Homo sapiens: one gene and its partner. Each later gene encodes a partner of the first gene's protein in a complex. Each region holds a gene or a part of one and is shown on either strand. Other genes may lie near its edges. The genes, in order: MYO5B and RAB11A.

Region 1 (11,080 bases):
TGGTGAGACAGTGCTCCAAACCTTTGTTGCCTGCGTGATGAATACGAAAGATGGTCTGAACCTTCAGGCAAAAACTATGAGTACTGTTATCTTTTCTAGGTGAGAGAAGAAAACAACTCGATCTAGTTTTTCTTCCTGGATTCACTGTTTTCTGTTCTGAAAGCCACTGGCTTTGCTACATCTAACAGGACAGGTGGATATCCATACATGCCCCCACCTCATCATGCAAATACCCATGGGTCTTCATAAGACTGGTTTTGGGGGTGTTTGTTTTCTTCCTTTGGCCAGCTTGGTGGAGAAAGATTGTTAATAAAACCTTTTGAGTTAATTGGGGGAAAAATAGGAGACTGTGCTCTTAACAAATGATAACCTTGAGAAGGTAAGGGCAAAAATATGTGCCCAAAATAACGTGTAAAATTAGGATATTCAAACACAAGGCAGTTAAATTAACTCTCACATCCATGAATGTTACTTTGCTGATATTCTACATTCACACCTTGTGCTAAGCCTTTGAGCACTGTCATAAAAAAGAAAAACATTTAATTATCTCCTGACAGGGGCTCCACATTCCATAGACTTTGGCAAGTGCCAGAGGAAACAGATGGGCTTTCTACTGGTTATGCCAAGCCAAAAGCCTTTCCAAAATCACAGAAGGTAATGTTACAGTCAAGGAAGGTGGCTCCTTGGTGAGGAGAGGACTTTCCTCAAAGAGCCATGCCTAGAACCAGGCTGTGGGGGGTTGGGGGGTTGTAGGTAAACTTTAAACCAATTCAATGATATTTGTTGAGTTCCTACAGCATGCAAAACCCCACCCTGGGAACTGTGAGGGATGTGAGGCTAAGATTCTACCTACAACTTCAATGACAGCAATTTTGCAAATATACACACTCAACCACCAATTGCGTACCCAAAACAAAGAGTAATGAAACAGTGAATCTAAAAACTACCTATGACCTCAAAGCTTTTGATTTGGCATTGCATCTTTTAATTTGGCATTATAACTCATCCTATTTTCAGCAGAACCACCTTTTTTGGATAATTGATGATGCACGGTAATAAAATGAATACCTGTGAACTCACTACCCAAATTAGACTGTTAATAGTACAGTTTCCCATGCTGCTCCCCTGCCACTCCCACCTCCCAGTAATTATTCTAGACTGTTTTCTTTTCCTTCATTCCCTGGTGTTTCCTCAATTTTATCATATATATATATATATATATATATATATATATCTCCTTCAATACTATTCATTTTGTTTCAGAAATTCTAAGAATGGTATTATTCTGTATGTATTCCTCTCTAAAGCACATTAAATGATGATACCTAAGCTGGGCCTTTGACTAAACAAGAAGATGAGGAAAGGCTTCCAGGAGTCTCAGGTCATGGCCCAGAAAGAAAGCAAAATGCCTATTAAAGTGTCAAGCATGGTAGGAAGGAGGCAGCTTTTCACTGGAGGATGTTAAGTGAGAGATGGAGCCAGGAAAAGTGGACCAAGGCCCTGAGAATGAAAGGATGGTTAGTTTTAGATCAGAAATACCCAATTTTAAGCTCCTTGAATTTCAGGTATGCTGTGGTTTAGATATGAATCATTTGTCCTCAAAGCTCATGTTGAAATTTGATCCCCAATGTGGCGGGGGTGGGAGGCGGGGCCTAGTGGGATGTGTTTGGGTTATAGGGGCGGATCCCTCATGAATGGTATGGTGCTGTTCTCATGGTAGTGAGTTCTCACTATAGTGAGACTGGATTCGTTCTCCTGGGAATGGATTCATTCCCACGACAGTGAGTTGTTATGACAGGATGTCCCTCAGATTTTGTCTTTTTGCACATGTCTGCTTCTGCTTTGACATTCTCCACCATGTTATGACATCAGGACAGCCTTGCCAGAAGCCAGGGCAATGCCCTTGAACTTCCCAGCCTACAGAACTGTGAGCTAAATAAACCTTTTTAAAATAAATTACCTAGTCTCGGGTATTCTGTTGCAGCAACACAAAATGGACTAAGACAGTGTACTTTGTTACACTTTGCCTTTTTGAAGATGTGGATCTCGTTTGGGACTACATGGCCTAAGGAAAACCAAAAGCAGGGGTTCTGCCTACATTTGGGACAGAATTTTAAGAAGCACCAGGATGCACGTGGGGCTGGGTGTGGTAGTGGTGGCAGTGGCAAAAGAACACAAGCAGGATCAGACCACCTGCCGTTCTTTCTGCACATGGACTCGATCCTTCTCTGATCTTGGTGGGTTTTCTGTTGCTGGGGCAGGGAGAGTTGCAGGGCAGTGCTAGGCAGAAAGGACCCTCTATATTAGGGCCCCTTATATCCAAATGATGTTCTGACTCACCATAAATGGGACAGATAACCTCATGGAAGGCAGTAGAACACAGTGGTCAGAAGCTGGGCCCTGAAGCCAGGCAGCTTTGGGAAAGTCACATAAGCCTGTGTTATTGTTAAATGAGCTAACATGTAGTGCTGAGAAGTGATTTGGCACAAAAGCACTCCATAACCAGTAGTTGTCCAACTAGAGGGTTCAAAATACATAAGCTCAGAACAAATGAAGGGGAAAATACATGCCAAGGTGCTTTATTCTTTAAATGTATATATTGTATCCTGAATATTCTGGTTTCCATGTTTTCCTATCTCAAAATATAGAGTGGACTGGGTGCTGTGACTCATGCCTATAATCCCAGCACTTTGGGAGGCTGAGGTGGGAGGATCACTTGAGGCCAGGAGTTCAAGACCAGCATGAGCAACATGGTGAGACCCTATCTCTACACACACACACACACACACAGAAAAAAATATATATATATATATTATTTTTAAGTTAGCTGGGCATGGTGTCGCATGCCTGTTCCCAGCTACTTGGGAGGCTGAGGTGGGAGGATTGCTTGAGCCTAGGAGATTGAGGCTGTAGTGAGCCATGATTGCACCACCACACACACTCCAGCCTGGGTGACAGAATGAGACCCTGTCTCAAAAAAATAAAAAATATAGAGTAGTCATTTAAATGAGCAAAAACAGTTATAAATAATGCCAGTTAATACAAACAAGAAATATAAGGAAAACAACACATTGTTCCCAGTGATCAATAATGTAGAGCCTACCAAGCATGTGAACAGAGGCTCAACCCTCCAATGAAAGTCAACTTTAAAACATGTGTAAAACATTTAGTATGAATAAGAATTTAAAAAAAAAAAAAGAGAGAGAGAGAGAAAGAACAATGACCCGAACTTAGAGTGGCGAAGAAACAGACTGGTTCTCTTGTGGTGGCTATTGGCCATATCAATGAAGACTATAAATGTGCATGCCAGCAATTCCAGCTTTAGGAATTTATTCTGAGAAAATAAATGAGGTTACAAGAACAATCTTTCACAGTATCAAAAGATTAACAATTTATTAGTATGTTCAAAAAAGCTAGAAGATAGGATCTTGAATGTTTCTAATGCAAAGAAATGATAAATGTTTGAGGTGGTGGATAACCTAATTGCCCGATTTAATCATTATACATTGTATACGTGTATTAAAAAAATCACTTGAACCCCATAAATTTGTGCAATTATTACTGTCAACAAAAAACAAAAGGAAAATAATTGGAACCAACCTAAATGCTCATCAGCATGGGAATGGTTAAACACATTACAGTATATGGCATCAGATCTTGGCAATTTAAAAAATGTATATTTTTAAGAAAAAATTACAGTACATCCATATGCTGCCTTGTGCAGCCATTAAAAATGGCAAAATTGCCTTTGTAGGCTACAGGAAAAGATAGCCATAGATTAAGATTTAGAGTAATAGACATGGCATGATCCCATTTGTTTTGAGTACATATTGTGCATAAGTCTAAAGCAGCACTGCCCAAGAGAAACAGAATGCAAACTACAACTGTGAGCCACCTGTGGTACTTTAAATTTTCTAATAACCACATTTAAAAGGTGAATTGAACAGAATATTTTAGCCAATATATAAATAACAATCACTTCAACACATAACCAATATAAGAAGTATGAAGGATATTTCGCATACATTTTTCTAAGTCTTGGAAACCCAGTGTGTACAGTACTGCACGCTTCCAGCTCATCCCAAGCTGGGCCAGCCTCATCGCAAGTGCTCAGCAGCCACATGCAGTTACCCTGTTGGACAACGGAGGTCCAGAGAACATGCCTAAGTGGTCAAGAGCAGCTGTTTCTGGGAATGAGACTACAGAGCTTTTGTCTTTCCTGCATTGTATGGATTGTTTCAATAATCATTTGTATTCACAGAGGGAAAACAGAAGCATTGTGAAAAATGCTTTTTAATTTTCCTTTAAAGCTATAATAAGAGACCAGAAAGCACAGGTTAAACTTAAAACTTCTTTCAGACTGCTCTTGCTCCTTCCCCAGGGGTGGTGGGGAGTACCATATCTTGTCTACCGCTCTCATAGTTCATGTTTGTAGCAATCCTACTTCCTCTTTCACCAAGTCTCCTTGTGATCAAGACCCCTTCAGGACAGCAGGGAAGGGTTAGGGGAAAAAACATGCTAGCCACATAATGCTGACTGCCACCCAGCATGGTGACTGGAGGGAGAAGCAAACTAATGAACAGTTGCCAACACTATGTTAGACAAGCACTTCACATGGATTAGGATTATAAGCCTCCAGTAACCTTCCCATGGTGCAGGTACCACCCCAATTCTTCAGATAAAGAAATCAAGGCTTAGAAAGTATCTGTTCCAATGTGTCGGAGCTGAGAGCGCCACAATATCCAGGGTGTCCACCTCAAGATCATAGTCACAAAGGCCTTGGAAATGCCCATACCAAGCTCCTGATCTTACCCTTATTAACACCATGCTATCAGACAACTGCATTTCTTCATTAAAGAAAAGCAAATCCCAGGCATCATTTGCAAGAACCCCAGATCCTGACATTTCTCCTCTAAGCTCTTTCGTAAATCTCCAAATGTAAATAAATGCTTTCACTTAGACAAACCATTTTCATCCCAAACCCAACATGTCAAAAATCAAGAATTATCCCTGCTCCAACCTGACTTCTGTCCACACTCAAGGTGGATATTTCAAGTTCATAGTTGACTCTTCTACTTCCCTTGCCCTTAATAAAACATTTATTGAGTTCTAGTCTCTGTAATTTCTACATAACTACAAAAAGTAGTAATGAGTACACCTAGCAACCAGATCTTCATTTCTAAATTCCATTCTTCAATAAAAGGAAACTGACAGGCATCAGCTTAACCAAGGGATCAAAGTGATCCGTCAGTAACAGGACACATTGATATCACTGTCTCCTGAGGTGATGCAGTGAGAAAGGCACAGCATTTATGATGTGTTCTTGCCCAAAAGTCACAACCTCCATGTAAGCATAAGACAGTCTGACAAACCCAAAATCATTCTACAAAATTATTGAGAAATGCTTTTTTTGGGGGGGTGGGCGGTGGGCAGACAGGGTCTCACTCTGTCACCCAGCCTGGAGTGCAGTGGCACAATCACAGCTCACTGCTACCTCAACTCCCAGGCTCAAGCAATCCTCCCACCTCGGCCTCCAGAGTAGCTAGGACCACAGGTGCATGCCATCACACCCAGCTAATTTTTTCTATTTTTTGTAGAGATGAGGTCTCGCTATGTTGTCCAGGCTAGTCTCGAACTCCTGGGTTTAAGGGATCCTCCCATCTTGGCCTCCCAAAGTGCTAGGATTACAGGTGTGAGTGACTGTGCCTGGCTTGACCAATGTTCTTCAAGTGTCAAGGTCATGAAAGACAAAAAACTGAGCAACTGTCACTAGAGGGGGGCAGGGAGCTACAACCCTAAAGGCAATGTGGAACCCTAAACAGGATCCTGGCCCAGAAAAAGAACATTAGTGAAAAAGGTGGTAAAATTCCGGTGAGCTTTATAGACCAGTTAGTAGTATTACAGAAATGTTAACCTCCTGGTTTCAATAATTGCACTATGGTTATATGACATGTTAACACTGGAGCAATCTGGAAAAATATAGAAACTGCACTATTTTTGCAATGTTTCTGTAAGTGTATATTTCAAAATAGTTAAAAATAGTGCTATAATTATCCCCATATACATCTAGCTCATACCTGTCCCTATGCTTAAACTCACTCTCCCCTGTCTCCTCCTGAGAGAACATCCTTCTTTACAGCCTCCTCATGCATTTCAAATCCTATTCATTCTTTAGGCCCCAGTCATGTCCCACTACACCTTAAAGGAAGCCTTTCCCGCAATACTGTAGCCCACCAGACCAACACTTCTACAAAATGCCTGTAACTTGTAGAGGAGTATGTGCACTCCTCTAATGACACACAGATAATCCTGTATTGTTAGTGTACTTTGTGTATTTAGCTTTTATCACCAAACACACTGAAGGCTCCTAAAAACATCTGGTATGGCCTCTGTTCTCCAGAATCTCAGCCTACTTAGATAAAGCATCACATAAAAACTATCAACAAGGCTGAGGTGGGTAGATCATGAGGTCAAGAGATTGAGACCATCCTGGCCAACATGGTAAAACCCCGTCTCTACTAAAAATACAAAAAGTAGCCGGGAGTGGTGGCACACACCTGTAGTCCCAGATACTCAGGAGGCTGAGGCCGCAGAATCACTCGAACCCAGGAGGCAGAGGTTGCAGTGAGCTGAGATCGTTCCACTGCACTCTAGACTGGTGACACAGTGAGACTCTGTCATAAAAAAAAAAAAAAAAAAAAAAAAAAAAAAAACACACACACCTATCAACAAAGGAGGGCAGGGCAAGAGCCTGCTCAATGATTACAGGTTACAGGCCATTGGAATATGCCACATCCACAAGTCACAAGTACAAACTTCAAAATTCTGATGATCGCCAACATGGTGAAGCAGGATCCACTGGGCTTATAGGCCCATCTGAAAACGGGGAGCAGAGGATCAACGGAATTGGAACTAGGGATGAGAGAAGAAAAAAACCACATGCAAGACAGAGAATGAGCCTCAGAAGGAAAGTGACAGCATGACACACAACCTCCATGCTTCTTTTCAGCCTTTCCTGGGACCATAGAGGGGCCAAAGCCCTTGAGATTCTCAACATCCACTAAGCTAAGCCACCATGAGTTATGGTTAACTTGGGCTCCTAGAATCTGATCCTGAGACAAGGATTCCTGCTCAAGAGACTTGTAAGGCAGTGTTTTCCGGAAAAGACTGGTAGGGGAGTAGAGAAGGTGGACAAGAGAGGGAAGGAAGTCAAGCTAACATGTGATACTAAGGAAAGTCCCAAGCATGGTAACTTTAGTTCAACTGTACAAAGAAACTGAAAACAGTATGGGTCATACTTTAGAGCTGTTCCATTCTCAAGGTGACAAGATAGGAAACTAATGTCATTACAGTGCCATTGGTTAAGGACTGTTCCCTTTTGCAGAGTGTCAATTCCCAGGCTCCCTATGCACACAGGCAAAACAGCTTCAGGAGCTTTGACAAAGAGATGGGTGCTGGCTATTGGGAGTGAGCTAACACCAAGGCAGTATGCAGGGAAGGGAGTAAGGGGGAAACAATAGGAGCACTAACAGCATCTGCTGACACTTTTCAAGTCCTCATGTCTTTAACACTGTCACCACTTTTTGGAAAAAAGAACATCACTCAGAGCCACCAGCAAAAGAAGGAATCATCAGCCCCTCCAGCAGGGGTGACTGGGTACAGAGGAAACAGGTGGCTCTTGCTGCCTTCAGACTGACACTTGGGAGAAACTTACATTACCTGAGGTATAGGTAAGGGACTGTTAAAGGACACCTGCCCAAAAGCACAGAAGATCTATTTTTCAAATGATTGGTCCCAAATCGCGCCCTTAGTAAAGGCTCCTGGGTGCAAAGCTGCCATACATATGGTGTGTCTGCCAGTAAAGTAACCTCCCAGCAGCACTCAAAAACCCACTGCTCAGACACTACCTATCAATTAGAAGCCAAGCAGGAAAAAAGGTTATTTGAAGGCACTGGTTTCAAGGCACCAGTTTCAATTTGATGATTTCTCATTCACTCTGCTGGCTAGAATCAAAGTAGCATATTGAAAATCCAGGTATTTGAAATAGCAGTATTTAAATTTTTTGTTCCAAGTAACTCTTCTATAGATAAGAGTTGTATTATTCAGCCTGAGAAGGAGAGGTTACATTTTATGCTTTAAAATCAGACTACTATCTGCAATCATCATGATGAAATGGTATTCACCATGCTTGCACATGTGTGGGCTTCTTTCTGGATCTATGCAAAGCAAAGCCCACATTGTCTTTTCCAATGGGTTGGAAGCCAAGCACTCACACTGACCACATGCATGCCACTGTGACAACAGAGACCATCATCAGCTCCACCTTTGGAGCTGATGTGAGAGTGAATGAGACTGACTCACTTTGACATCACCCTGAAAGTGTCTGGCACTGACTGGTGCTCTTTCTCCATCCAGAAAAACCTCACTACAAAGAAAACAATTTCTCAAAGGTGAGGTGTTGGGTCTTCTGAGAACAGGAGTGTCTCTGTTCAAAGAGAAGTGCCCTTTGGCCCCCGACCTACCAAAAAAAAATCACATAACATATAAACTGCCACTTGAAGGGAACAGATCAAGAAGAGCAAGAACACATTTAATTGGATGGAGGGAAAAAGAAACTATTTTCTTAGATAACTAGAAATACACTAATTTCTTACTGAACAGTATTTAATACAAGCTAATATATATTTAAATGTTTCATATTCCAATAATAACATCTTCTAACTATCACAAAAGCAACAGGTATAATCAAAGGGCTTTAAATTTTCCATTCCCAAAAATGTATAAATGCTGTTAGCATAATGGGTAATTATTTCCATCATACATAATACATTGATGTGTGTGTCTGGCTCCAGTGTTCATCACATTAGGAAAGCCCACTAGCAAGTTAAAAATAAAAGGGAACATTGGCTATTTTGATAATACACTAAAATGAATAATCTCTAAGAAACAAAGTGAATCTGAGTAGCAGGCACGACTTCCCTGTGTAACTTATGATTCACATGCATACTGAGAAGCCAGCTTGGCAAGTGGGGAGACCATGGTTAGGCAACTACACAACTGCTTCTCATAGTAAAGCACAAGTGTGTTAATTGCCAGGAAGAATAACAACTGCTCAAAACATAAATCTAGAAGATACTGTCTTGGGTCCCAGAAAATCTCCTTAATTTCATAATCAAGACCCTAAATGATTAAGAACTGGAAACCCATTAACAGAGCAAGGTGCAGCCCAGCAGCCCTTAGGGAAGAACTCTAATATTTGTTTGGGATTAATTATGCCAACCCCTCACACCAATGAAGCTACTTTTTAAGTGTCTTATATCCAAGACCTTTCTCTGGTGACACCAGTTTTGTACATCTCCATAACCTGAGAAAAAGTACACTGAAACCCAAGTTCAGACTCCCACTACTTCATCATTCCTAAGAATTAACATGCAATGTATTCATTTCTAACTAAAAATCAAATTGAGTGTTTTCTCCTACAAGTATTGTCTTTAAAAGCAATCCGATATTAATTCTTGTTCTTCAAAACTAGGGCTCCGAAGATTAAGGGTTTATTCAATTGTCCATTAGCCTCATATGAGCACTATTTCAAGGTCATGGAAAATGCATATCATGGAAAAAAATTCACATGGATTTCAGAGTTTTCTGCACCAAAACAAACCCATAGTTTTATACTTGTTATAACAAGTATGAATGGGATCTAGAACAGGGTCTAGTTTGAGGCACTAAGAAAGTTAAGTCATCAGTTTGAAAAGAAGCCCCTATCAGGGCAACATGAATTCTACTAAAATTGAAGCAAGACCAAACATCAAATTTATGACGAAGTGTGGAGAGAAGAATTGTGAAATCATGACTTTATGAAAAGTTTATGGGGACAATCAGTTTTTAAGTGGATAATTCATTTGAAGAAGGGACGAAGCGATGTCAAAGATGAAGCCTGTACCAGCAGACCATCCACACCCATTTGAGAGAAAAAAAAAAAAAATGTAGCTTGTTTGTGCCCTAATTGAAGAGGGCTGACAATGGTAGAAACAATAGCCAACACCACAGACATCTCAATTGGTTCAGCTTACATGATTCTGACCGAAAACAAAGTTGAGCAAAGTTCGCACTTGATGGATACCAAAACTGCTGCACCCAGATCAACTGCAGACAACAGCAGAGCTTTCGATGGAAATTCTAAACAAGTGAGATCAAGACCCTGAAGCATTTCTTTGAATTGTAACGGGATGAAATGTGGCTCTCCCAGTACAATCCTGAAGACAAAGCCCAATCAAAGCAAAGACTGCCAAGAGGTGGAAGAGGTCCAGTCACAGCAAAGATGGACTGGTTCAGAGCAGAGATCACAGCAACATTTTGGGGGAATGCTCAAGCCATTTTGCTTGTTGTCTTTCTAGAAGGCCAAATGATGAAGACATCTGCTTATTATGAGTGTCTTTAGGAAGCCAAAGCTTTAGCAGAAAAACACCCAGGAAACTTCACCAGAAAGTCCTTTTCTGCCACAACAATGCTCCTTCTCATTCCTCTCAAAGAAGAGCAATTTTGCAAGAGTTTCTGTGGAAAACTATTAGGCGTCCACCTCACAGTCCTGATTTGGCTCCTTCTGACTTTGTGTCCTAATCTTGAACTAAATGACCTGCATCTTTTCCAGTTAATAATGTAAAAGAGACTGCATTGACATGGTTAAATTCCCAGGACCCTCAGTTCTTTAGGGACGAACTAAGTGGCTGGTATAACTTAAAAAAGTGTCTTGAACTTGATGGAAACTGTGTTGAGAAATAAAGTTTATATTTTTAATCTTTTAACTCCATTTTTCCCCCACAAACTTTCCCCCTCATATAATACAGCAATTCAATATTGCCTGACAAAGGACTTTGACACATTGTAGGTATATTCAGTTGAGTCACTCCTTTTACTTAGGAGCACAAGTTGTATCTCCATGCACTTTAATGTAACAAAGCTTCGGCTCTTTGAGCACTCCAGTTCAGATTTTTCCCCTGCCTCACTGGCTTCCAGCCTCCAGTCCCAGCTCCTGAAAACCTAACCGGCTTCAGTGAAAGAACTGAAAGCTGAGCTTTTA
Region 2 (5,999 bases), on another chromosome or scaffold:
AGGCTAATTGTGTTAATTTGACACATTTTTAGAATTATCTTGCTTTTTGAGAGTAGTGTTTTTGGAGGGACAACTGGGAGAGTAAACAAAAATAAGGTACATTCTCTGTTCTTAAGGACTTTATAATCTAGTCACAGGGAACAACTTTTAGGCAGTGCAGTATAAGACCAAACGTGTTACATACAGATACTTATTGTGGAGGAATTTAGTGACATTCATGCGGTTATTTATTTATCACAACACATGTTATATGTTGCAGTACAGCAGTAAGACAGACACAGTTTTGATCCTTACAGAGTTTAACACTTAGTAAAAGAGGCAGACACTAAATTATTTTTGATAAGTGTCATGAAATAAAAATAGAGTTTACATATAACATCTTAAGTTGCCTATTTTGTATCATTCTTTAATTACAATTTAAGTTTTGTTCAGGAGGTCACTGATAAACACATTATCTTTTTTTCCCTTCCAAGAATCGTTTGGGATTTTAGCATGTTTGTTAAGATGTACTCTGCCGAATGCGTCTGATAGTGCAAATTTATTTATTTTTTGTGTGGTACAATGTCATTGTGTGTAGGCAATTTTTGTTTGTTTGTTTGTTTTTTGGGGTAAAGGTAGACTGAAAATACTCTTATGGTTTACTTTGAATCTAAGTCCATAAACAATGTAATGCTATTGGCTTACCTCTTTTTTTTTTTTTTGAGACCGAGTCTTGCTCTGTTGTCTAGGCTGGAGTGCAGTGGCACGATCTCATCTCACGACAACCTCCGCCTCCCGGGTTCAAGTGATTCTCCTGCCTCAGCCTCCCGAGTAGCTGGGATTACAGGCACCCACCATCATGCTTGGCTAATTTTTGTATTTTTGTAGAGACAGGGTTTCACCATGTTGGTCAGGCTGGTCTTGAACTCCTGACCTCAGGTGATCTGCCTGGCCTGGTTTACCTCTTTAAACAAAGATTTATTTGACTGGTGAACCTTTCCCTCTGACATGGAAAAACCTTTGTTTCTTTTCTTACCCAAAGGGCAATTGTTAAAATAAAGGGTTGAATCTAATCAGTGGCTGTTTGAAAATAAAACTTTAAATTTATGTATTCTCTGTTCAGTTTCCTTAGGGACTTTGATGCAAATATATCTCCTACCTTTATGTATCTTTTATCCTAACTATGATAGGTTTATTCACACTAAGTATTGTGGTTTCTTTTTTCCTTCAGAGATTTACCGCATTGTTTCTCAGAAGCAAATGTCAGACAGACGCGAAAATGACATGTCTCCAAGCAACAATGTGGTTCCTATTCATGTTCCACCAACCACTGAAAACAAGCCAAAGGTGCAGTGCTGTCAGAACATCTAAGGCATTTCTCTTCTCCCCTAGAAGGCTGTGTATAGTCCATTTCCCAGGTCTGAGATTTAAATATATTTGTAATTCTTGTGTCACTTTTGTGTTTTATTACTTCATACTTATGAATTTTTCCATGTCCTAAGTCTTTTGATTTTAGCTTTATAAAATCATCCACTTGTCCCGAATGACTGCAGCTTTTTTTCATGCTATGGCTTCACTAGCCTTAGTTTAATAAACTGAATGTTTGGATTCCTCAGTTATTGTTTACTTTTCATCATGGAAGCCTGTCACTGTATGTAGGACATAATAGAACTTGATCACTTGAAGCTCAGACCTATTGGTCTTGATCAAATCAAACTAAGAAGACCTTAGAAATAAGCTACCATTTTGCCACAGAGCAGCTTATAGGTAATACACTCTTCTCTCAGTGCAGTGTACATTTCCACAAATCTAAGAATTGCCCTATAAACATAGCAGGATTTTGAGAGCTTGAAAATTTTCCATTATTCTGGACATGAATTTCTAAAATGCCTTAATAGGTTTATGTAGTTGAGTAAATTTTGTTTTTTAATTTTTGTAAGCATCAAAGTTGATTAGAGAGGGGGGCACTTTTTCTGGAGAATTCTCTTAGTAAACACAAAAGATTGTTACGGTTTCATTAGTAGTATGGTTGTGGGGCCATAAGTTAAACAGTGCTGCCTGGTAGGCTGGGAACTGAAGAGACTTGTGGTATTCCATCTCGGGTGCCTCTGTTGGCAATGATCAGGCAGCCCAAAAGATTTAAATGATCTATAATAATTTCCAAGCGGTAGATTATGTGGCATTTTATTGCTCAGGCAATAATTGGTTTAATGCTGGTAGTGTCAAATTTTGAAGTGTTAATTTTGTCTTAGAACCTTCCAGTAAGTGAAATACAACCTAGTTTTATCACCATATCCACCAGCAGGCATGGATAATTATTTTAACAATGCTAATATTTGAGTTTTGCAGTATATTATAGAATATAGTCCAGTTAAATCTTTGGTTTCAGTATGTCTGAAGAGTACAGTGAGAGGTTAATTTCTGCTCAAGTGGTACCACTTAAAGGCATGTATTCTTTTAGTATGTAAAATGAAATAGTACCTTGAGTTTAAATAGAATGCATTTAGGCATTGTAGAGATCTGAAATAGTTTTCTTCCACTACATTGTTGAAATCAATGAAGCAATTAGTTTCTCATTCAGAAATGTGCACACTAATATTTAGTTTTGCTTTCTCGTGGATAATATTAAGCACTTACTCTGCAGTTTCCTGGAAGTTGTGTCAACTGCAGTGATACTATTCAGGATGGTGGGAAATCCCCAAAAATATGTATGTGTGGGCTTGCTTAGATTACTATATTTCATAGTTAATCTTTTGTCTCTTGCGGTGCTCATGATGTGTGGGGCACACGGAAGGCATTGCTGTAGTCAGTCATTTTGGTTTTCTTCTATAGCCATTTTATTATTTTAGTGTATTAGTTATGAAGATAATATTATCTATTTGTAAATTGCTACTTTGTATTTTATGCATGCTCTGTAATTTGATTTTTTTTTAGTTATTGATTTGGATTATATTCACATTCTAATAAACAGTTATAGGGGGATTATTTCTTATGCTGTCAGATTACATTTTTCCTTTGAGTGCTTTGGGTGCAGCCGTGGAATCCTGATGTAAAAGCATAGGTTCTTGCATTACTGAGTAAACATTGAATTGGGAGCATCAGTGTGTGAATTCAGCTTTGATTTTAGAACTGCAGTTCAATTATGCTTTCCTTGGAAAAAGTATGTCCAAAAACATTAGGAAAGTAGTGTGTATTTTCATATATAACAGTGTCACCAGACCCAGGAAAAGAAACCATCTCTATTTTATTGAAAGTTGGTGGTAGATTTTTTACAAAGTAAGGAGAAAAGAGAAAAACTAAATAGTGAATTGAAAATGAATAAAGTAAACTTAGAATTTTTACCCAAGTGTAGACTTAAATGTTGCTTTGAGTATGGCTGGATCTTGGGAGAATTCCAGGAAATATTAGGTATTAGAAAATGACTTTGATTGCATTTCAGCAGGTGTCTTTATTCTGAGTAGTATCTTAGGAGACAAACTGTCTCAAGCAAGAAACAATAAATTTTTAAATATTATGACAGTTCAGGGCTTAAGGCAGTTTAGAAGTATTTTGCTACTTGACCTTGATTTTCAGTTATTTTAACTTTGAATTTTTTTTTTTTTTTTTGAGACGGAGTCTTGCTCTGTTGCCCAGGCTGGAGTACAATGGCACCATCTCAGCTCACTGCAAGCTCCACCTCCAGGGTTCATGCCATTCTCCTGCCTCAGCCTCCCGAGTAGCTGGGATTATAGGCGCCAGCCACCACGACTGGCTAATTTTTTGTATTTTTAGTAGAGACGGGGTTTCACCATGTTAGCCAGGGTGGTCTCGATCTCCTGACCTGGTGATACACCCACCTCGGCCTCCCAAAGTGCTGGGATTAAAGGCGTGAGCCACCGTGCCTGGCCTTGAATTTTTTTTTAACCTGTTATATAGTCTCCTGAATAGTTAGCCATGGTGCCTTGATTTAATCTTATGTCATTGTTCTCAAATGCCATGATTTCTCTTTAATAGTAGTTGTCATTATGTAAGGGTAAGTTATTGCCCATTTAATTGTAATTATAAGAAGAGGTGCCAGCTAGTGACCTTACATCAGTGATCTTTTAAGTTCTGAAGGGTTCTGCAGAAAAGTTACACTTCTTGAGTTTGGGTTGCCCATCAGAGCTGGTCACATTTCTTTGATCATTGAAAAAATGAATATCTTAATTTTTGTCTTTGCTGACTGGTATTTATAAAATACAAATGCTTTTAGTGGGTTGAGCTGTTGTGATAATCTCTTCCATCTACCTTAGAGAAGAAGCTGTACTATTTAGACAGTTTTGGCCAACACTAGAAGCAAAAGAATTCAAAGGCTGGGTGGATATTTAAGAACTTATTCTAACCTGTCAGGTTTCAATTTGTGGGGCTTGGTTTAACAGAGGAAAAAAATATAAATTGATTTTCTGATGTCTCACAAATATCACATACCTGGAAAAAAATTAAAACAAAAAATGAATTTTGTAAAAGGTTATGTATGACTTCCATTTGCTCTGTAAAAAAATGAACAAAGATTGTGAAAGGATCCTCTTCCACCACATCATTTAATGGGTTAGCGGAACAGATAGGGAGCTATGACACTAGCACCAAAGAGAGATTTTTCTTCTGGTTGGGTGGTGCTGGTGCCACGCCCCTTTCTGGGATTTGACAAGTCTTTCCCACTCACCTATACAATATGCCAAATCAACTGGAGTTGTCATTCTAATGTTTTAAAGAATGATTGGGTTCCCCCAAACTGTAGGAGGTCGATGGTAACAATAAAGTGATACAAAATGCTTATGTCATTATAATTTATGTAAGGGAGACCATTAGGCTGAGAATCAATATGATTGAGGTTATCTATTCTCCTGAAAAGTGAATTGGAGAATAAAGAAAGAATATTTGAAAGGATGTTGTGTACTAGGCAATATACTAGCATGTATTAGAAAATACGGTAAACTGTGGGTTAGAAGAGTGAAAGTAGCTGGTATGATAGAGCACTGGACTGAGTAACGAAGAGATTCTAGTCATGGCTCTTGTGGTCATTTCATTTTTGAGCCTCACATTCTTCCAATTAATGAGGGTACCAGATTAAATAAACTCTGGGGATTCATCCCAATTCGAACTCTGTAATTCTCTGAATGAACTCTCTCTTCAATTAAAGCCAAATTATTAACATTTTAACTCAAGTTTAAATTTAATAGAGAAGTCAAAATGAGGTATGCACTTTGTGGAATGTTTTTGGTCTTATCACAATAACCTGATTAAAATGGTGCCTTTATTTCCATGTTTACTCCTTTAAATAAGATGAAAGCTTTCAGAACATTTATTTGCAAAATGACTGTCAATATCAACAATATGCATCAAAGTACCATATATGCTAAGGGAGAGGAGCACTTGATGGGCTGCTATGTTAACTGTAAATTGAGAACTGCTTGTTTTATGGCTTTTGCTGTTAAAAAAAAACTGCTGGCTTTTAATATGTACTTTAAAATATACTCATGTCTGGGAGAGAACTTTTAAAAACATTTTGTGTTTAATTTTTAAAAAATTATTTCTTTAATAGGAATCTACAAGAAGGTAGATCAGTCCACAGGCTAGCTATCCAGTAGAACCAGTGATTAAATCCAAGTGTACAGGTTTATGTGTGCATGTACATGATACACATGGTATTTTGGGGTTGTTGATCTAGTGATCTAATTATTAATAGTCAAAACATTATTTAAATTCAATTCTTTGACATTTATTAATTATAGGATAGTTCCTGACACGGGTGTGAGCACAAAATGTTATGTATATTGGCTAACTATGTTACCAGTACCAGTGATGGTAGTGAGAATTAGCAGCCAACAGGATTCCTTTACTATGTTTGAGTCAGTGGAACTTAACCTTGCTCCAAACCACAAAATCTCAGACCTTTTTAACTCTCATCCCAATGAATAATGTACTGTTTTTAGCACCTGTCCCCCTGTTGACAACCTCTAATCTCTCAGCATACCATTTTCTCAGGTATTTCTAGGGAAGTG

What was found.
Region 2: the proteins of MYO5B (region 1) and RAB11A are in contact, whole or in part, in a crystal structure (PDB 4LX0), measured with the Homo sapiens proteins. Residues at the interface, in NP_001073936.1 of Homo sapiens: Ile1627, Gln1628, Gly1629, Leu1630, Trp1706, Met1710, Arg1713, Tyr1714, Ser1717, Gln1718, Glu1721, Arg1724, Gln1745, Leu1747, Gln1748, Leu1749, Lys1750, Lys1751, Glu1755, Ala1759, Leu1763, Tyr1779, Glu1786; in NP_004654.1 of Homo sapiens: Leu11, Lys13, Arg33, Glu35, Ile44, Gly45, Val46, Glu47, Phe48, Ala49, Thr50, Gln63, Trp65, Glu71, Arg72, Tyr73, Arg74, Ala75, Ile76, Thr77, Ala79, Tyr80, Arg82, Gly83.

What each region holds. Positions count from the first base shown.
Region 1 is NC_000018.10:50,182,105-50,193,184, forward strand, and holds part of MYO5B (unconventional myosin-Vb), read right to left. Parts: intron 1-11,080. UniProt on the Homo sapiens protein: May be involved in vesicular trafficking via its association with the CART complex. The CART complex is necessary for efficient transferrin receptor recycling but not for EGFR degradation.
Region 2 is NC_000015.10:65,886,491-65,892,489, forward strand, and holds the end of RAB11A (ras-related protein Rab-11A), read left to right. Parts: intron 1-1,210; coding exon 1,211-1,350; 3' UTR 1,351-5,499; downstream 5,500-5,999. UniProt on the Homo sapiens protein: The small GTPases Rab are key regulators of intracellular membrane trafficking, from the formation of transport vesicles to their fusion with membranes.